Linked DNA regions of Homo sapiens: region 1 is linked to region 2. Evidence: fine-mapped expression QTL. Tissue or cell type: whole blood. Region 2 holds a variant in brackets; the other region holds the start of a gene. All regions are shown on one strand. Distances are between the middles of the regions.

Region 1 (8,000 bases), 190 kb before region 2:
CACCCAGGAAAAGGCAAGGTCAAAGATAATTAAATGTTTTCTGATGATGGGAAAACTATCAGACTAATTGACTCAGAGTCCATCAATTTTTATTTATTTATTTATTATTTTATTATTATTATTATTTTTCTAGATGGAGTCTCGCACTCTCTCCCAGGCTGGAGTGCAGTGGAGCGATCTCAGCTCACTGCAAGCTCCGCCTCCCGGGTTCACGCCCTTCTCCTGCCTCAGCCTCCCGAGTAGCTGGGACTACAGGCGCCCGCCACCACGCCCGGCTAATTTTTTGTATTTTTAGTAGAGATGGGGTTTCACCGTGTTAGCCAGGATGGTCTCGATTTTCTGACCTTGTGATCCGCCCGCCTCGGCCTCCCAAAGTGCTGGGATTACAGGCGTGAGCCATCGCGCCCGGCCGAGTCCATCAATTTTTAATTCAAACACTTAACTCTTTGAATCCTTTTCCCGTAGAATTGAATGGCCCCACAGAGGCTACATCTGGGCAACCTCCCGTAGATTGCAGAAATTCTCTCTTAGAGGCCCCTGCCCATAGATTGCAGAAATTCTCTCTTAGAGGCCCCTGAGATCTTCTGCTTGTCCACAAGCAGCATCTCCCTCCCAGGTGGGCCTCTGAGGTCCCCCTTTCACTAGAGTACCCTGTGTTCCGCAGCTTCCGCCTGTCTAGCGGAAGTTGGAGGACAGCAGCTCTGCCTCCAATAAGTGAGAGTCTTACAGGCATGCCAGGTTAAAAAACAAGTAAAAGATCGTTCCCTGCTCTTACAATCCAGTTGAGAGTCAGGACATAAAAAGGGACCCTAGGCCAGGCGCGGTGGCTCATGCCTGTAATCCCAGCACTTTGGGAGGCCGAGGTGGGAGGATCACCTGAAGTCAGGAGATCGAGATCAGCCTAGCCAACGTGGTGAGACCCCCGTCTCTACTAAAAATACAAAAATTAGCCAGGCGTGGTCGTGGGCGTGGTGGTGGGCCCAGCTACTCAGGAGGCTGAAACAGGAGAATCACTTGAACCCGGGAGGCAGAGGTTGCAGTGAGCCGCGATTGGGCCATTGCACTCCAGCCTGGGTGACAAGAGCCAAACTCCATCTCAAAAAAAAAAAGACCCTAACACATAAAGAGATTTTGAGCTGTTAAAACCAAACCAACAAGGTGGGCAGCTTCATCCCTCCCTCCACCATCAGTCCTACAAGGTTAAGACATCTGACAGAGAAGGAGCCCTTGTCAAATTGGTAGTTCGCAAAAATAAAGGTGTAGCTTTTAATCTAAAATTCTACCCCAACACTAAGTTCCATAACTATTTTGATTAATATATTCTTAAGGATTTAGCGACCGTGTGTGTGTGTGTTTAGACGAAAACAGAAACGGTTCCTTAAAATATCCAGTTTGTAAAAGCACAGTGCCTTGAACCACTTAGTACTATCATTTTGATCAAGTACTATCAAGTACTATCACTTGATTGCTCCAACCCAATAAGCTTGGGCGAGCCTGGCACTGTGCTAGGATCTTCTGGAGAAATCCAAGAAAGGTAAGACTGCGGTTTTACTCCTCTTCACCTTCTCACTACTCGGATTTTGGGCAGGCAGGGGACCAGGGTGGGGGCTCCAATTCCCGGTTTGTGTTTGTTTTTTCAGGGGGCATCTTACTGAGCACTAAACACGCGCAGGTGCTGCACCAGATGCCAGGAGCCCCGCAAGCGGAGGAGCTGCGTACACGCGTGTCAGTTAACTGGGCGCACAGTGCCCGTGGCGCCGCAGACCCGGCCCTCAGACTCAGTTTCCCCTCACAGGGATCGCTCGCCCCGCCCCGCGGCGGTCTGGGGAGCAGCAGCCCCGGGCCCCGGCCCTGCCTTGCCGGTTTCCGCCGGTGCGGCTGCGTCCTTCACACTCCACCGGAAGCTCCGGGCCTGGCCGCCGGTAGGCGGTGGCGGAGGCGGCGCCGAGGTTGGCTGCCCTACACCCCTGCCCCGGGACCGCAGGGCGGCTCCCCGGCCCCCTTCCTCGCCCCGAACTCCCCGCTCCAGCTCCCGCTTGCTGAGGCGGGGACTCCTCGGGTGCAGCCGGGGACCTGGCACCTCGGCTGCAGAGACCGCCCCGGACTCAACTGCCCCCAGCCCAGCCGCGGGCGCCCCGGCCCCGCAGGGGCTCATTCCTCTTTCCGCGGGCACCGGCGCTGCCTGGCTCCCAGCGCTGCCCTCGCAACTGGATATGTGGAGGTGGCGACGCGACACTCCCCCGCCCTCGGGCGGGCTCACCGACCTGGCTGGGGGCTCAGCCTGCAGAGCCGGGCGGCGGGGGCTGTGCTGGCGCCGGCAGGCGCGAGGAATCACAGAGCGGGGCGCCCAGCCTCATCATGGGGCGGCCCACGGAGACTTCCCGTGGGAGTGGGGTCTGGTGCAGGGGCGCCCCAAAGGACGAGTGGGAGATGGGGACACGCGGCGCAGAGAGACTCCTCGTGGATGGAGCCGATGGAGGCCCAGTGTAGAAGAGAAAGGGGTCAAGGAGACGGATAAGGAGCCACCAGAGACGCGGGGGGAATTCCCCGCAGAGGATGCGGGAAGCCGGGGAAAGGAAGGGATTCCGGAAGGAAGGGCTGAGAGCCGGGTCAGGTGCTGGCAGGAGGGCTGGTTGGATAGAAACTGGGGCGGGCCCAGGGCATTTGGCGTCCCCGACATGCGTATACACTTGGAGAGATGATTCCCTGGAGATCCAAGTGCCTGTATAGACAATCTTTTCTAGAAGTTCTACCGTTAGGTGAGGCGAGAGTAGATGTAGAAATTGGAGACGAGAATAAAGAGTGTTTTAAAAGCGTGCGTGGTTACAGGACTGGCTCTGGGTTCAGGGGTCCCCACTCACTAGCTGTGAGACCTTGAACAAGTCGCTTAGCCTCTCTGTGCCTCAGTTTTCTCATCTGTAAGGTGGGGATGATGATGGCAATACCTGCTTCACAGAGTGAAAATTAGATGAGATGATGTCTGTAAAATTACGTAAGACGGTACCCAAAAGTAGTACTATTTTTCCCTTTTCTTATTAGAGCAGGTTGCGCACGTTTTGATGTCCGTGGGAATGAGCAGGTAGAGAGGGTGGTATTGAGGCCGGAGGGGAGAGAAGGGACCCACAGATGGGGAGAGAAGTCTTGGGTGCCTGTTTTATCCCAAACCAGGGGAAGGAGGGAACAGGTAGGGCTGGCTGCAGGAAAGCTTGCAGGTATGGGGTACACAGTTAAAAGGGAGTGTCTTCTGATAGTCTTGATGCAGGCCTGGAGGTCGTTTGTTATGGGGGTGGAGGTCCTGATGTACATTGTGGCGGTAAGATGCCGTGCTGTCTTTGCCACCAGCCTGTGGCAGCCCTGGTGTTACACCAGGGCAGGTGGGCAGTTTAATGTATCTCAGGCCAGATGACCTGCCCTGCCCACCTGTTGAGGCTCCAGTAGATAGACGTGAAAGCACAGTATAAGCATAATGCACCACTTTAATCCTTTTCTCTGAGGAGCTGGAAGGCCTGTAGTCACCATCTGAGCCAAATGTCATTCAAGTACTTCACTTGGGTTACACACCACACTTTGACCCACTATCTCATTTAGTCATCACAACAAATGGGTGAAATAGGTATTATTGTCCCATTTTACAGATGCAGAATCTGAGTTTCAGGGAAGTTAAGGACTTTGTCCCAGGGCCCACAGTTAGTAAGCAGTGGACCCAGGATTTCAACTCAGCTCTGTCTGACCTCAAAACCCATGATCTGAAACCACTGTGAAAGTTTGCAAAACCTCTGTAGCAGCCAAGCAGGATGGAAAGATGTGTAGGGATTGTCTTCTCCATTTGATAGATGAGACAAGAGCTGGGTACTCTGATCTCCATCCCAAGCACACAGAGCTTGGGGCCCCACAGCCCTGGTGTGAATCCCACTCCACTACCAGAGGCTGTGTGCCTTTGGACCAGGCATCTTGCTTCTCTGACCCTATATACAGCTGCAGAAGAATTCCTTGCAGGTTGCTGTAAGGATTTGGAGGGAAACTGTTGCCCAGCACACAGTACACATTCTGGGAGCCATCGTTTCCCCAGTGCACTTTTCCTGCAAATGTGGATCTACATCCCACTTGGATGCTGAGACCAGCTGCTGTGATCTTGCATTTGTTTAGCGCTTTGTTCTCCTTGAGGCAGTAAAGTGGTGGCACCTGACCGGAGCATGTAGCCACCTATGACTTCCTGAGTGGGGTGGTGTGGGGAGGGCCCTGAGGAGTCTGTGGTCCTAGGCCTTGGATTTCATCAGGGCTTTCCTGCTCCTTCTGGTTGCCTCAGTCCCAGGCAAGATAGGGTCCCAGAATCTTACAGCCCAGAGGCCACCTGTTGCAACTTCTTTTTTACAGATGGAGTCATCAGAACCCACTGTGAGGAAGTGACTTCTCCTTGAGGTCACCCAGACACTCCAAACAGAGCAGAGCAAAAGCGCCTAGAACTTGAAATTTTGGACCTGTCTCCAACACCCTGGGGATTTCCACCAGGAAGGTGAGCACCCCCACTGAGAATTCCAGGCTGCTCAGAGGTGCCAGGGAACACAGACCAGGGACCAGCTGTGGCCCCCTCCTCCGATGTGCCCAGGGAAGTGGGGGAAGCCAGCGGCAGCCTGCGATTCTCAACCAGGGGAACTCTCACTGTGCTTTCTGAGAGTCTGTGACACGGGTCATTTTCTCTGACTTGCTCTCTTGCTTTTTCTCACTCTAAAAAAAAAAAAAAATGACTGGACACTCCTAAAGCCTTCAGTCACCATCCAGGGGATTTTTATCGCCACAAAGGGTAATTCCTGCTCCATCCCTGCTGTGACTCAGCTGTGACGTTGAACCACACAAGCCAGAGAGAAGAAGATAAAGTCATCAGAGCTCCTACTCACCAGAGAGTGAGGCCCAGGCCAGGACTCCACAAGGCTGGTCCCCTGCCCTGGAGCAACTTAAACAGGCCCTCTGGCCAGCCTGGAACCCTGAGATGGCCTCCAGCTCAGGCAGCAGTCCTCGCCCGGCCCCTGATGAGAATGAGTTTCCCTTTGGGTGCCCTCCCACCGTCTGCCAGGACCCAAAGGAGCCCAGGGCTCTCTGCTGTGCAGGCTGTCTCTCTGAGAACCCGAGGTGAGGTGATGGAGGAGCGGAGGGTGGGCAGAAAGTGGGTGCCAGGGAGGGACCCCTGATGGGAGGTGAGGGGCAGAGGAGCCTGTGACTTCAGGCGGTGACTTTTCTTCTCTGGGCCTCAGTTTCCACACCCTTTTCTCACACTCCCTGACACTGCCCCTCTGGCTGTGGTGGAAGGAGAGGAAGCCACAGAAAGGCATCAGCTCCCACAGGGGAAAGCCATCCACACCGAGGAGAGCCTCGAGGCTGTGAGGCCACTGTCTCACTGTGTGGTCTGGTGCTCTGCTAATGTCCCTAAGCCGCAGCTCGCTTGTCTGTAAAGCTGTTTTCTGTGTCATAGAATTGTTAATGAAGCCCAATGAATAATAATCACAAAAGTCCTTATAATAACAAATATAAACCTCTTGGTGAATGACAAACTGTTAGACGAATATCTCTCCTTCCACAGCATTGCTCATCACCTCAGACCGTTTGCTGGGAACCCTTTTGGAGGGGACAAAGAGATCGATATATATTTGTGTATTTAATGATACTTAAAATATTAACAACCCAGAAAGGCATGATATCAGTACTATTGTGGACATCCCTCTTTAAGCAATTATGCACCTACTGTGTGCCAAATGCTCTGCCCTTGGGTCCTCAGCACAACTTAGAGGGGTGGATACTATTATGATCCTATTTTACAAATGAGAACACTGAGGCCTAACAGATTAGGTCAGCTTTGGTCAGTTTCCTGGCAAATATGCCCTTAAACTATCTCATGTGATGACCTTTTGTTTGCGGTTTTACAGCTTAAGAAGGTGGCAAAGCTGAATCAGGCAAGTGAGAAGTTCAAACATGACGACAAAGGAGGAGGCTGTGAGAATAGCGAGGAGAGGCTGTGGCCGTGGAAAGGCCAGCCAGGAGGTGGAGGAGCAGAGGTTCACTGGTTTTACCATCAAGCGGATTGTCAGGGTTCAGCTCAGGCTCTGGTAGTGGGTCTCCTGGTTTCCCCTCTCCCTCCTTCCAAAACCTGGCAGAGGAGGGAGCTGATTGGAAGTTGGAGGGCTGAGGCCTGAGGCCTAAGTCCTGAAGAGCTTCTACTCAGCTCTGCTCCTGACTCACTCTACCTTGACCAATCCACATGCCCTCTGGGGCCTCATTCCCTCACTTGTAAAATAGACTATCTCGGTAGCGGTAGCAGGTCAGAGACACCAGGAGCTTTGTAAAAACACAGTTGCTGGCCAGGCGCAGTGGCTCATGCCTGTAATCCCAGCACTTTGGCAGGCCGAGGCAGGAGGATCACTTGAGGTCAGGAGTTTGAGACCAGCCTGGCCAACAAGGTGAAACCTCATCTCTACTAAAAATACAAGAATTAGCTGGGTGTGGTGGTGTGCACCTGTAATCCCAGCTACTTGGGAGGCTAAGGCATGAGAATCACTTGAACCTGGGAGGCAGAGGTTGCAGTGAGCTGAGATCGCACCACTGCACTCCAGCCTGGGCTACAGAGTAAGACCCTGTCTCAAAAAAAGAAAAACCCCCAAAAAACAGACAAAAAACCCACGGGTACCCAGGTGTTACCCATTAGAATCTGACACCCATTCCTGATTAAGAACCTCTAGGACAGATGTTCTCTGAGGCCCTTTCTTGTTCTAATAGGCCATGATCCTCTGTAATTACTAAACATATAAGACCAAAACCAAATGGAGGACCAAATGAGAAGAGCAAATATAGTCACATGTCAGCAATCTTTTGCCTAAACCCCTGAGATCAGATGTGTTTTGTAATTCAGAATTTTTTTTAGAAAAGCAAATCAGGGCATCATGTAATTGTGGCAGGGAATGCGGCAGTGCCCTGTAATCAAGCACATTAATGTTTCTGCAATGAAACATGTATATATTCACACTAAGTGGGGCAAGTAAGGGCTATAATAGCTTCCGGTCAGTGCAGTCACGGCAGGTTTGGCAGCCCAGGAAGCTCACTGCAAACTACCAAAAAATGTGGGATACTCGGCAGTTTTGCGATTTAGGAACTGTGGCTCTGGGATTGTGGACGTACATGATCACCACCCTGCTGATAGTTGAGGCTTCTGGAGCTGTCAGGAGAGTGGATGGTGCAGGGAGCTGTAGTGCCTCTCTCCAAGGCTTTGTCCATGTTTCCCCAGGAATGGCGAGGATCAGATCTGCCCCAAATGCAGAGGGGAAGACCTCCAGTCTATAAGCCCAGGAAGCCGTCTTCGAACTCAGGAGAAGGTACGTTGGCACATCACAGAAAGGCATTTGTCCGTTGTCTTGATTTTTCCAGGTTGAAGCCAAGTAGACAGCTGCCCACTCCACCCCTGGCAGGCACCTCCCAACTAGTCCTGAGTCCAGACTGAATTTGCTTTATAAGGAATAAGGAGACTGATGTTCACAGTGGTGAAGTGTCTTGCCTAAAGCTACCTGGCAATAGACTTAGAGTGAGAACAGTCCAGACCAGGGGTCCACAAACTACGGTTCATGGGCCACATTCTGGCCCACCACCTAAGCAACGAGCTAAGAGTGGTTTTTATATTTTCAAATGGTTGAAAAAATCAGAAGAATGATAGGCCATGCATAATGACCTGTAATTCTCGAGGCTGTGAGGCCACTCTCTCACTGTGTGGCCTGCTGCACTGCTAATGTTCTCAAGCCACAGCTTGCTTGTCTGTAAAACTGTTTTCTGCATCACAGAATTGTTATGAGCCCCAATCAATAATAATCAAAAAAGTTCTTATAATAACAAATATAAACCCCTTGGTAAATGACAAACATGCCTGTAATTCTGAAGTGTTAGAATTCAAATTACATAGAATTACATGCCTGTAATTCTAACACTTTGGGAGGCCGAGGTGGGCGGAGAGCTTGAGCCCAGGA
Region 2 (8,265 bases):
CCTCCCAAAGTGCTGGGATTACAGACCTGAGCCACCGCATCTGGCCCCAAAGCAGCTTTCTAAGTTTGTAAATAGCATTACAGAAATCATCCACCTTTGCTCAGCCCAGTGCCTGGCAGCCGACAAGCCCTCGCTGTTGGTCCAGGGATGAATGAATGTCATCAGTGATTGATTCCACAGTCTTCCACAGTGTGCCACTTGTCTAGACATATTGGCCTATACTGTCCCCTAGTGGAATTTGAGAATTGGTACATTCCACCTGAGACCTAAGGATACATTCTCTAATGGGAGATTGAATTGTAGGATTCCAGGTTACAGATAAGGGCGGTGGCCCCTGAACTTTAGCACAGATACAAGTTATAGAGTGATCTTATCAAGAATGACAGATTTGGCTGGGCGCAGTTGCTCATGCCTGTAATCCCAGCACTCTGGGAAGCTGAAGCGGGCAGATCACGAGGTCAAGAGATCGAGACCATCCTGGCCAACATGGTGAAACCCCATCTCTACTAAAAATACAAAAATTAGCTGGGCATGGTGGCGCATGCCTGTAATCCCAGCTACTCAGGAGGCTGAGGCAGGAGAATCGCTTGAACCTGGGAGGCAGAAGTTGCAGTGAGATCCGCCACTGCATTCCAGCCTGGCGACAGAGCGAGACTCCGTCTCAAATAAATAAATAAATAAATAATAATAATAATAATAAAAGAATAGCAGATTCCTGGGCTCCATCCCAATAAGTTCAATAAGTCTGAAATGGTCTAAATTCATTAAGTCCTAGCCCTTTATTTAACCTCTGTAATGAGTGGGTGCTCGAGGTTGAGGCTACAGTTGTGGGAAGAGGACCCTATGTTTAAGGGCAATGAGATGAGCATTAGAAAACAGATCTGTCACTTAGTCTGTGTAATCTTGGGAAATCCACTTAATATCTATGATTCTAGTTCTCTCATCTGTGAAATAGAGTTAATGATACCTATCTCATAGGGCTGTTGTAAGATTAGAAATAGTGCCTAGTTACAATGCTTAGTAGCTAAATTATAACTCATAAAGTGGGGGTTAATATTATTGGTATAGTACAATGACAAAGGTTTGTAAAAAATGTATAGCGTTGGCCAGGTGTCGTGACTCATGCCTGTAATCCCAGCACTTTGGGAGGCCAAGGCAGGAGGATTACTTGAGCCCAGGAGTTTGAGACCAGCATGGGCAACATAGTGAGACCCCCATCTCTATATTGAAAAAAACTTTAAAAATATGTAAAGTGTATAGTAGATGTTCAACAAACATTAGCAGAATTTAAATACTGTAAGCACCAGAAGAGTGAGAATCATGTCTGTTTACCATTGATTACCAGGATCTAGTGTGTTAAAAACAGCATGTAGTAGGTGCGCAACAAATATTTTTTGAATGAATGAATGAGACACTCATATCCTGTTTCTATCAGTGTGAATGTTTGTTTTCCCAATGTATATTTCCTTATAAGCACTGGATGTACCAGAAATTTGTTGTGTGTGTATGTTTTAAGTTGTTTTGTTTTAAGTTCTCCAAGGACTTACAGACACTTTGTTTTTTTGTGTACCTCAACACTGACTAAGCTGCCAGGAGTCAAGCTGTTTTTAGAAAAGTTCTTTTTATTCAGCAGAACATTGACTACAAAAAGAAAAAGAAAAAAAAAGGTGTTTTTTTTTGTTTTTTTTTTTAGTTATATAGTGATAAGAACACCAGCCTTGAAGACAAACTACTTCAGTTCAAATCTCAATTCTAACTAGTTGTGTTACTTTAGCAAGTCACTCACCCTCTCTGGACCTCAGTTTCCCCATTTGAAACATGAAGGAGTTCAAGGATCATTTCTGCTCTAATGTATTAGGATTCTGTATGTCTAATTCAGTGTTTTAAATAACCCCTTTATTGTAAAACTAATACATGTCTATTGCCAAATATTTGAAAAATATCAAAAGGAGTAAATAAGGAAGTAAAAACCGCTGTCAATAGCACTCACCCAGAAGAACCACTGTTGACATTTGGGTGAATATTCTTCTAGTCCTCTTTACAGCTATGGATAATTTTTACCAAAAATTATCAGAACATATATTCCATTTTGTAATGTGCTTTCTCACTTAATATGTTAGCAGACTTTTTACATCATCAGTGTTCTTCAAGAGCATGATTCTAATCTCTGTGGAAGGTTGAATCATAATTCATTTAAACAATCCCCATTGGATATTTAGGTTAGTTCTATTTTTTAGCATAAGTAAGGCTTCGACAACCAGCCTTTATACAAATCTGTACCCACATCTCTACATTTTTCCCCTTAGGTTAAATTGTAAATTTTTTTTTTTTTTTTTTGAGACAGTGTCTCCCTCCATTACCCAGGCTGGAGTGCAGTCGTGCGATCGTAGCTCACTGCAGCCTCAAACTCCTGGGCTCAAACCATCCTCCCGCTTTAGCCTCCCCGTGTAGCTGGGGATACAGGTGTACACCACCAAACCTGGCCAAAACTTTTAAATGTATCACCAAATTGCCCTCCAAGTGAAGTTACACATGTGTACACTCTCATGAGTAACGTTTGAGTGGCTATTTCCCCATGATCTCTCCAACACTGGTTATTGTGGTTTTTTAAAAGACCTTGCCAATGTCATAGGTAAAAAAATAGCATATCATTGTTTGAATCTAATGTTATTTTCATTATACTGTTTTATTTCTGGTAGAATGTAAAATTGCATACATACTATTTTTACAACTTTATAAAAATACATGGAACACACATGTTTCAAATGTGGAAAGAACAATAGAAAAATGTCAGTAGTTGTATGATGGGATTGTAATATAATTCTTTTATGTTGTAAATTTTTTAAATTAAAAAGAATCTCTGTAGCAGATGGCTACTTATTCCTCCAAATTCTTCCCCTCTTCCTGGGCACAGTTGCCCAGCTACAGGCTACATTTCCTAGACTCCTGTGCAGCTGGATGTGACCATGTGGTTAAGTGTGGACTAACCAAATATTGAAAGGAAGTGATGTGAACATTTTCTGGGTCATCTCCAGATTTAAGCTCCTTATCTGGAATGTTGGTTCTTCCTCCTTTCCCAGAGTTAGCAACCCAGCCTTGATTAAGCAAATAATGACACCTTAGGGGATGGAGACCAACAGGGAAACTACCTGTTTTTTGTTTTTTGTTTTTTTGACAGAGTCTTGCTCTGTAGCCCAGTGGCATCATCTTGACTCACTGCAACCTCCGCCTCCTGGGTTCAAGCAATTCTCCCTGCCTCAGCCTCCCGAGTAGCTGGGATTACAGGTGTCCGCCACCACGCCCTGCTAATTTTTGTATTTTTAGTAGAGACGGGGTTTCGCCATATTGGCCAGGCTGGCCTTGAACTCCTGACCTCAGGTGATCCACCTGCCTCGGCCTCCCAAAGTGCTGGGATTACAGGCATGTGCCACCGCTCCTGGCTGAAACTGTATCTGTTTATGGCGGCATCACTTGACCAATCCAGCCTGGTTGTTTTGTTTTGTAAGAGAAAAATTAATTTTGATGTTTTTGCACCCACGATATTTTGGGGCCTCTTTGTTACAGCAGTGTAGCTGTGACCCTAATAATCTCAAACTTCTCCCTAAGACTGGGGACATTTTAGGGACAGTTTCACAGTTTGTGGAGCTGATTGGAAGCTGGTAGCAGAGGACTGGGAAGCTACTATATACTTTCCTGAATACTAGAAAATGTTTTTTTTTTATATTCCTTCATATAAACTTTAACAAAATTCTGTGTTAGTATATTTTTTGTTTACAAGGTTTAGAAATAAAAAAATATAATTTATGGTCGATACAAAATACAAAATCACAACGTAAACATCACAACTATAAGTATCCAAAAAAATAAGCTGCCAACCAACATGCTCCATTGAGGATAAATTTCTCTTATTAATAATACTTTGAAGGCTACAGGTTATCACTGGTTTTGCTACATTGTGTACTTTTAATGGCAATGATTGTGGTTTACATGATCATGACAATAAGAAGCATACTTTTATTTTTTTATTTTTATTCTTTTTTTTTTTGAGACGGAGTCTCACTCTGTCGCCCAGGCTGGAGTGCAGTGGTGCGATCTCAGCTCACTGCAACCTCCGCCTCCTGTGTTCACGCCGTTCTCCTGCCTCAGCCTGCCGAGCAGCTGGGACAACAGGCGCCCGCCACCACGGCCGGCTAATTTTTTTTTTCTTTTTTCGTATTTTGAGTAGAGATGGGGTTTCACCATGTTAGCCAGGATGGTCTCGATCTCCTGACCTCGTGATCCGCCCGCCTCGGCCTCCCAAAGTGCTGGGATTACAGGCATGAGCCACCGCGCCTGGCCATTTTTATTCTATTTTTTAAGACAGGGTCTCACTCTGTTGCCTAGGCTGGAGTGCAGTAGCGTGATCATGGCTCACTGCAACCTCCGCCTCCCAGGTCCAAGTGATTCTCCTGCCTCAGCCTCCTGAGTAGCTGGGACTACAGGTGCACGCCACTACGCCCAGCTAATTTTGTATTAGTGGAGACAGGGTTTCACCATGTTGGCCAAGCTGGTCTCGAACTCCTGGCCTCATGTGATCCACCCCCTTGGCCTCTCAAAGTACTGGGATTACAGGCAGGAAGGATACTTTTAAAAAACAGTTTCAGGCTGGGCGTGGTGGGTTTCATCTTTATCCTAGCACTTTGGGAGGCCGAGGCAGGTGGATCACTTGAGGTCAGGAGTTGGAGACCAGCCTGGCCAACATGTGAAACCCCGTCTCTACTAAAGATACAAAAATTAGTTGAGCGTTGTGGCAGACACCTGTAATCCCAATTACTTGGGAGGCTGAGGCAGGAGAATTGCTCAAAACCCGGGTTTCGATGAGCCAATATGGCACCGCTGCACTGCAGCCTGGGCAATAGAGTGAGACTCCATCTTATAAATAAATAAATAAATAACAGTTTCACATTATTGGTTCAATTGAATGGATTCACAGTTACTGCTGTTGAATGTAGTTGCAATGACTACTCTGGAAAGTACAGTGCCAGGTGGCACTCTGAGAAGTCAGCATTTGTCCTAG[G/A]TATTGGACGTTGGCAAGAGACCCCAGCACCACACACAGGAAGTTTGGAAGGTACTCATCACAACAGTTCACCCACTATCTTCATGAACAACTGGTTCCACAGCCACCAGGATGACTTGGGTCCACAATTCTCGTCACCATTATACAGCCTAGCTATGACCCACTCCCTGGGGACCTAGGGAGTCAGGACCTTCAAAATCTAGGGAAGGCAACAGTGACTTCAGCTTCCCCTCGTCACGTGGGAGGGGAGCCTTCCTTTCTCCTGAGCGGGCCCTCTCCTAGAACCCACAGTAGTTGTAGGGTGGCAGTGATCCCCAGCCTGCTCCTTAGTGAGGAAGCCTGGATTCTGTTCCTCCTTGTGACATGGCAGAGACAGGAATTTCAAGGCCAGAGGGCATGGATGTGCTTCCCAGCCCTACTTCTTACTATCGCGAGAACCAGTGTGGGCAAGGGATGCCATTTTGCATTTTGTCATGGTTTTTCCTCCACTTAAGATCACCATTTGCAATTCACTTGTTGCTATATTGCCTTCATAGTTATCATTTTAGTAATTGTACATTATTTAATTGAACAATAGAATTTACTTAAAGAGCTCCTTGTTGTGGACTCTTTAAGTAGTTCCCAATTTTGTGTTACTACAAAAATTGCTGCAATTAGTATATTTTGCAATACAACTTTTTGCTTCTGTTGGATAATTCCCTCAGGAAATGGGGTAAGTTTTGACTATCTCTTAGACTAGAAGGATGTTGTGGTAACAATATCTTTCTTTGCTTAGCAAACAATGAAGAAGACCAGAACTATCCTTCAGTAAGAAGTGCTTAACTAAACTATGCTACCTCTAATTAATGGAATACAAGGCAACTACTTAAAGAAATTAGGATTACTTTATAATAGCCAAAAATGGAAGCAATTTAGATGCTCATCAGCTAATAGATAAATAAAATATGGTATTATATCCATACAGTGGAATATTACTCAGCCATAAAAAGGAATGAGGTACATACTACAACATGGATGAATCTTGAAAACATTACGCTACATAAAATAAATTAGACACAGAAGGCCACATATAATATGATTCCATTTGTATGAAATGTGTAGAATAGGCAAATCCATAGAGATGGAAAATAAGATAAGCAGTCCTTGGGGGCAGGGGAAGGGGGCAATGGGGCATGATTACTAACAGATACAGGGTTTCTTTTTGGGATGATGAAATTGTCCTGAATTAGGTAATAGTGATGATTGCAAGAAAGACCTCATGAATATGCTAAAAACCACTGACTTGTACACTTTAAAAGGGTGAGCTTTAATACTGTAATAATACTGTAAAATTCTCAATTTTTAAAAAAGAGAAGGGTTGGGCACAGTAGCTCACGCCTGTAATCCCAGCACTTTGGGAGGCCAAGGCAGGCAGATCACCTGAGGTCAGTAGTTCGAGACCAGCCCGGCCAACATGGGGAAACCCCGTCTCTACTAAAAATACAAAAATTAGCTGGGCATGGTGGCAGGTGCCGGTAATCCCAGCTACTCCGGAGGCTGAGGCTGAAGAACCGCTTGAACCTGGGAGGCGAAAGTTGCAGTGAGCTGAGATTGTGCCATTGGGCTCCAGCCTGGGTGACAAGAGCAAAACTCCGTCTCCAAAAAAAAAAAAAGAGAGAAAGATCTAAATGTATTCACATGTTGTATTATTCATTGAAAAAAGCAAAGTACAGAATAACATCTATCCTATGCCATTTTTGTGAAAGTCTTTTTTTGATATTTCATGGTCGAGATTGTGGGGCTTCTTCCAGAATATGTCAGTCTTGCCTTCACTCTGCCATAAGTTCAGGCAAGAAAGCAGCTCCTTTCTCTAAAGAATAGATAGCACCTGCCATGCACCAGGTACTGTGATAATGTATAACAATTTCTGTGTAATGTATAATTATTCCCATTTTTCAGATGGCAAAACTGAAAGATAAGAGAGATGAGTGACTTGCCAAGTTTACACAGCAAGGACAGGAATGAAAACTCAAGCCTGTCTAACTCCAGAGAAGGAAGAGCGTGGGCTCTTGGAATCTGATTCTCAGCTTTGTTTGTTCCCTGTGGATTGTCAGGCCATGGGCCTGGAGGCTGCTCCATTTCAGGAAGCGTAGCTAACAAGAATGCTGGTTTATGAATTTACACGGAGAGGTTGTTCATGGTCCTTTATTTGAGAATAGTAGTAAGTGGACGTCAGAGAGTCATCTTGCCCCAGGGGTACGCCCCTGTATTTTGATGGGAATATTTCAGTAGCTCCTAACTGGTCCACTCATGTTGCCTGGATGTTCCATGCTCCTTCACAAAGCTGTCCTTGCTAAGTTGCTAACTAGAAAACCCTTCCTGCCTACCAGCTAGTCAACAAACTCCTACTTCCCCATCAAAACCCAGCTAATATGTCCCTTCTGTTTTCTTTTCAACAACACCATTTATAGATCCTCCAACTGAGCCTTTTTAATAACACTAGTAATGTTATCATTTATTGAGCTCCCATTATCTGCTAGGCAATTTTAAGTATTGATATACTTGTACCTTTTAATGTTCATGGTAATTATGCAATACAAGTATAACTATTTACATTTCTTCCAGATGAGGAAACAACCTCGAGATGTTAGGAAATTTGCCCAAAGTCTCACAACCAGGACATGAAGAAACAGAACTTTCTGACTCCAAAGTTCATACTCTCCCCCTTACACCACATCCCCTTTTCCTTGCACCATTCACTTTGAATTGCAAATACTGCTTGTCACTTGTCACCATCTTCACCCTTGCCCCACAAGCCCTGGCAGGCAGGTGGTGGCTCTGATTTCAGGACTGCCACCCCATTGTCCAGTACAAGGCCTGCTCTCAAGTGGCCAATCCTAAAAGTTGCATAGCAGTGAATTGTTTCATTTACAGGAACACACCTTGGAAAATAAAAGCAATGTGTTCATTCTTTCCCTGCAGATGGGATAGGCCCACTCTCTCCCCCGAAGAGGTGATAAGGGGGCAGGTCTTGTCTCCTTGAGGACTTGCAGATGTTTCCTGAGGCCCTGAGAGCATTTCTGCTTCTGACCTGCCTTGGCTGCCACTGCCAGTTAATGTGAGCTGCTGGGAAAGCCAGCTTCATGGCTCTGCTGCGTGTGGATGCCAACCACTGACTCCAGCCAGCTCTCCTGGAAACTGCCCTGAAATATTAAGGCTAGTAGGGGCCC

What was found. PIP is the estimated chance that this variant, and not a neighbour inherited with it, causes the effect.
Region 1: TRAF1 starts here. The variant in region 2 is fine-mapped to the expression of TRAF1 in whole blood (TOPMed, PIP above 0.99).

The regions. Positions count from the first base shown.
Region 1 is chr9:120,923,063-120,931,062 of GRCh38, reverse strand. It overlaps TRAF1 (TNF receptor associated factor 1), which reads left to right and starts at 4,267. Exons shown (of 8, transcript NM_005658.5): 1 at 4,267-4,513; 2 at 4,762-5,127; 3 at 7,271-7,358. The coding sequence starts at 4,988. RefSeq lists a silencer at 1,739-2,328 and enhancers at 3,989-4,308, 4,649-4,988, 5,449-5,518, 5,115-5,638.
Region 2 is chr9:120,735,094-120,743,358 of GRCh38, reverse strand. No RefSeq gene overlaps it. Among named protein-coding and RNA genes, the nearest start is that of MEGF9, 25 kb to the right of the region's middle. The variant G/A (reference allele first, on the strand shown) is at 5,057.